Linked DNA regions of Homo sapiens: region 1 is linked to region 2. The links come from fine-mapping of genetic effects on gene expression. Tissue or cell type: ovary. Region 2 holds a variant in brackets; the other region holds the start of a gene. All regions are shown on one strand. Distances are between the middles of the regions.

Region 1 (2,684 bases), 950 kb before region 2:
AATGCTAAATTTGTCCTGTTTGAGAAGTTGGGGCATCTTTGAACTGCCTTCTGAGTCTTTTGGGTACAGTTCATGTTATCTTTGCTTTTCTTCCTTGCTTTCTGCTACAAGCAATATGTCCTAGGCTATCTTGCATATTTCTTGCCCCTACTGGGAATCAGCACTTAACCTCCAAGAGAAGCCAAGGTAACTTTTTTTGGGCAATGCTCTTTAGAGATCACAATCTGGGGAATAGGAGTGTGCAATGGGTTGGTCACTGTTCTAAGAGTTTTCAGTGGACACACCTTTTTTTTCACGAAAAAAATGTACCATGAGTTAATTCTGATATTTGTAAATTCAAATATAGGATTGCAGAATTTTAATATAATGTCTTTGGTTTATATTTGTATTTCTTTTCTCTTATGGTGAAAAACTTGGTTCACAAAGATATATTTATATACTTTATACTAATTATAAATTCAGAAATATTCAGAAATAGTAATACCTATGTTATTACTGACGAGTACCGAAAACAGCTTAAGGTTTCTTCAGTTTTTTCCCCTTGGATTAATGTCTCCCTAGGAAGGCTTGGTCGATTTATTGTTTTAAAGTCAAATCATTTATTTTCTATGACAAGACACTTTAACTGCAAAATGTGCTTCAGTGTAGTACCTTCATTTAAGGAGGAGTGAGGTGCCATTACACCTCCGTGTGTGTGTTTTGCCAACAGTATCGAAGACGCTTAACAGAACAGTAGTAAGTTTTGCTTTACAAATTCTTACATTGCAGAATCGTCTGCATCAGCTATTTTCATTCATGAGATATGTGTAAGACCTAAACCAAAGAACATCGTTTCCCCGGACTGAGGAGGTTTGCGAAACCTCCAGAGACTGAACTGCTGACCTTCCTTCTCTGGGCCGGGCGAGGCAACTGTACCCAATACACTTTTTGTTGCCATGCTGCGTGCCAGGTTACTCAGCCGGGAGAGGACACTTCCTACCATCAATGCGCTCAGCTTGAAGCCAGAGACGAAGGCACCGACAGTTTATTATTAAACAATGGCAGCAGCGCCACGCTGAAGACACGAACGCGCTGTTATGGAACCCCCAGAGGTCTCCCCCATCGTAGCCTGCTCCAGCCGACTCCGCCCACGTAAGGTGCAAGGTTTCCGCATGAGAGCCGGGAAGCCACAATTTCAAATTCTCTTTTATTGCTTTATGTCCCTGACTCATGCAGGCCAAAGGGTGAGGAGGAGTAATAGCCAACAAGAGCGTCCTGCAGAAAGAAACAGGCTGCGTGGGTCCGGAGGAGCTTGAAAGGAAGAACCCGACCAAAGGGCAGGAGACCCGGCTCTCCAGGTCGCGGAGGCGTGGGTGCCCAGCCAGGCGGAGTGCGGGGCGGGGCCTCTCGGGCCGCAAGGTGGGGCCTCCTGGGCCGGGAGGTGGGAGGTGAGCTCCGCCAGCCCAGCCCACTGCAGACAGGTTACCCAGGACCTCAAGGTGTGCTGCGTCACCCCGCCCGCGCTGCGCTGATTGGTTCCTCCAGGGAGCCCCCGCCCCCTCAGCTGTAACCGGGCCGGCTTCAGTGTCGCCGCCATCTTTGTTGATGTGTCAGCTCCGCAGGGGTTTGGGGAAACGGCCGCTGAGTGAGGCGTCGGCTGTGTTTCTCACCGCGGTCTTTTCCTCCCACTCTTGGCTGGTTGGACCCCGCTATGGAAAAGTTGGCCCCTGAGCCAGAGCTCCAGCAGCCTTGTTAGGGCGTGGCCTGAGGCTTGGATAAGTGGGGTAAGTGTCTGAGGGGTACTCGGGGCACACCGGTGAGTCGCGGTGGCGGTGCGGTGGGGCTGCCAGCCTTCCGCTCCTTCCTGCACGTTCCGTGGCGGGGGCGAGGGCGAGTGCGAGGTGGAGGTCGAGGTCGAGCGGGCTCCCCGCCTGGCTCCTTTGAGGGCGCGGAGGAAGGGGAGGGCTGGGGAACGGGTTTCAAGCCCTTTCCTCTCCCTGCCTTCCTCCTTCGGTTCCGGGACCTTGGAGGTGGCAAAGAGGGGTCAGCGGGGGTCGTGGGGGCTGTGCCTCGAGAGCGTCTGAATTCGAGCCCATTGCCTGGGCTGCGTGTGAACTGCAGCCAAGCCCTACCTGCTCGAGAATCTTTCCTAGACTCAATCGCCTATTTCGTTTTTCGTCTCAAGTTGACTGTATGTGGGTGTTTTATATTTACTGTTGTGAAGACTTGTTACCCTCTTCCAAACACTTCCATTACTGTGATTCTAAGTTCCTTAGAAGTGATTCTTTGGAGTGGTGGATACTGTTCTTTATGTTGTCTTTCAAGGACGTCAAGGCATTTCATAAACCTTGGTTGGTAAGGAAGGGGTTTCAGATTTATGTCTCCATCAGTAATGAAAAATGGCAAAAACAAAACAAAAACCCTTCTACGTGTCCCTAAGTAGCAATCTTGGGAAACAGTGCAGGTGTGAGTATTGCTTAGCTGTTAACAGTTTAACAACTTCACCTAATATTCCCATCTTGATTTTGTTTAGAGGAAAAAGTCCTGGATTTCGAGTCAGAACATCTGGATTAGAATCCTACTTCTTTCACTTGATAATCTTGTTACCTGTGGAAATCAGAAGAGAGAATATAGTAAAAATACGCAGTACAGTCCCAGGTACTTGGCCGTTTTCTCTGCATGTGTGTCATGTTCCTTTGATGCCC
Region 2 (2,684 bases):
ATGGGAGGGAAACCACAATTTAAGTGTGAGATAAAAAGGAACTATGCGTACATGTATGATGAGATGTTCACCCAATGGAAAAAACCGTTCACTGCCTTCCAGGACGGCCTCATGTGCTCCATTAACCCAGCGTCTCTCGAGAGGAGATGCCGCCAAGGATCAGTGATCAGCTCTGGCTGGAGAGCCAAAGAAGGTTTTCCATGCAAAAACACACATTGCTGGCCCTTCCTTTGAAATGGCGAGCAAGACTCTCTTTTTTTGTCTCTTTTTCTCTTTCATGACTGCTCATTTGACCTGGCCTACTGAAGAACTAAGTTAGAAGTTGAATTATTATTATTATTATTATTATTGTTATTTTTGCCCCTTTTGCTTAATCCACGGGCAGTGCTCAGCCCATGTTCCAATAAACATTAAGGACCAGAGTCACAGCTGACAGGAGTTTTCCTTGGGTTGATACGCTTTCAGACGTAGGCTCCAGGATCCACTACATCTAATCCTCCAGGATGTGCCGCATCTAGCATCTAACACGAGAACTCTAACATCTGCCGTTCATGATTTCCTGACCGGAAGACTGGGCACCTCGCTTCCAGCCTGGTTTAACCTCTAACTAACTCGGTCACGAGTTTGCACACGTCACTGTGTTTTCTGGGCCTCAATTTCTTTATGCCTTCTCCATTCTCCCACTTATTAAGGCTCAGAGTCAGAAGGTTATTGATGCCTCTGTCTTCATAGGCCACATTCCTAACCAGTTTCTGTCTTAGAGTCATGGCCTCCAACCACCCCTCCTTTCCATCCTGGCTGCCCTTGCCAGGGTTCAGGCACTCACCACCTCTTGCCTTGACACTACTAAGGGGTCCTAACACATCTCCCATCTCCAGTTTCTCCCCCTCTTCCTTCCTCCACTCCACCCTCACACCACTTTCAGATTCACCGCCTTAAACACTTCTCTAATTCTGTCCTTAACCTGTTCAAAGCCCATCAGTGGTTCCCCATTGCCTCTCAGTAAAGGTGATACTGTGCTTCTCACTCAGCCAGTCCCACTCCTCTACAAGCTGCCTCAGCCTCTGTTTTTGTCCCACTGCTCCCCTAAAAGCACCAACTCTCCAGCCAGATAGCACAGCTTGCTTTTCCCACACCCCCTGTGCCTTCTGTCCCCACCCACTCACTCACCCTGAGTTCTCTTTCTGGAGTGGCCTCTACCCACCACCTCCACCTGCACTCCGATCTCTGTAGAGAAAAAGCTTTTCTATTTGCTTTATGTATAAGAAAGCTAAGCAAAACATTATTCATTATTATTCATTATTATGAGAAAATAGAAACAAATTGAATGTCGTATTGGAAAATAGTTAACTTACTGGACAAT[C/T]ATGCATAACTTTATAAATCATGTCTTTGAAGAATATTTAATGATATGTGAAAACCCATTATTCTGCTAAGTGAGTAGACTTCAAAAGTATTTATTCAGTATAAGCCCAATTTTGTGAAATATATATGTGTATGTGTGCAGATGTATGTGCATATGTGTGTGTGTGTGTGTGTGTGTGTACACACACATCAATAAAAATCTGGAAGAATACATCAAAATGTTACTTGTGTTTTCTCTCTGGGTGCTGGGATTATGAGTATTTTAATTTTCTTCTTTATGCTTCTTATATTTGCTATAATGAACTGTATTGTTTTTATTATTTAAAAGTATCAGAAATAAAACAGTGAATAGCCAGGTGCAATGGCACATGCCTGTAGTCCCAGCTGCTTCAGAGACTGAGTTGGGAGGATCACTGACCCCAGGAGTTCGAGGCTGGCCTAAGCAACATAGCAAGATATCATTTCTTTAAAAAAATAAGTGAGCAAATAAACAATAAAAATCCTACCATCGTCCAAATGTCACCTCAAAGTTTACTCTTTCTTCAAAGCCTGTTTTGATGCTGTACTTCATGCCCCCAACCACTGACTTATACCAATTGGATATAACTGTCTCTTCATTTGAGCCCCCTACCATGGCACGTGCTTTGTATTTGAGCTATTGTGTACATCTTTACCCCTCCCTCTCGACTCTGCAGGGCCTGGGAGCAAGGACTCCAAATCATGATTGCCTCCTCACTCAGTCCAGCACACAGCTGAGTGCGCCCTATGAGTGTTTTCCACCTGAGTTGGCCACACTCAGGCTCTATGGCTAAAAGGGTCATTGCCTGGAGAGTCTAAACATCTATATTAACCATCCTAGGCATCTCAGTGCATCTTGTCCTGCAGGGAACTAGGCTGAAGAGACGTAGCTCGAATAACTTCTATTTATTTATTTCTTCAGAAAAGAAGAGAACGGCAGTGTCAACTCACCTCTGGTCTCTTCTTGTTAGCAAGTTCAAGAGACACTTGGCGATATTGACTGCAGAATACAAAGATGAAATTCAAGGGTTCCTAGAGGGTGTCTGTCCGTAGAAACAAAGGACATCCTCATCTTGAAAACGTAAGTAGTAGATGTACAGTCATGACTCATTCCCTTCACCTCCTAAGTCTTGGGCTAGAAGTGTTGGATGTCATAGACTGAGACCAACATGGCCAGCCATCTCACCCTAATCTCTAGTACGAGGGTTTTCCAAGAGTTGTCATCAACTTGGACCTCAATCCACGACTCTGAAGACTCAAAGATCCCCAAGTGCAAGGATGTTCTCTTCCTGCTTCCTGATGCC

Which allele goes with the higher level. Alleles are on the strand shown, and positions count from the first base shown. SD is a standard deviation of normalised expression in the study named.
For the expression in ovary of the gene that starts at base 1,575 in region 1, T is the low allele of the variant in region 2 and C is the other (moderate effect, 0.57 SD a copy in GTEx).

The links. PIP is the estimated chance that this variant, and not a neighbour inherited with it, causes the effect.
Region 1: CCDC186 starts here. The variant in region 2 is fine-mapped to the expression of CCDC186 in ovary (GTEx, PIP 0.98).

The regions. Positions count from the first base shown.
Region 1 is chr10:114,173,094-114,175,777 of GRCh38, reverse strand. CCDC186 (coiled-coil domain containing 186) reads left to right here and starts at 1,575. Exons shown (of 16, transcript NM_018017.4): 1 at 1,575-1,763. MIR2110 (microRNA 2110) reads left to right here and starts at 1,599; the gene lies at 1,599-1,673. It also overlaps a transcript of TDRD1 not described here. RefSeq lists a silencer at 1,240-1,509 and enhancers at 1,570-1,769, 1,365-1,893.
Region 2 is chr10:113,223,963-113,226,646 of GRCh38, reverse strand. No RefSeq gene overlaps it. Among named protein-coding and RNA genes, the nearest start is that of SNORA87, 180 kb to the right of the region's middle. The variant C/T (reference allele first, on the strand shown) is at 1,364.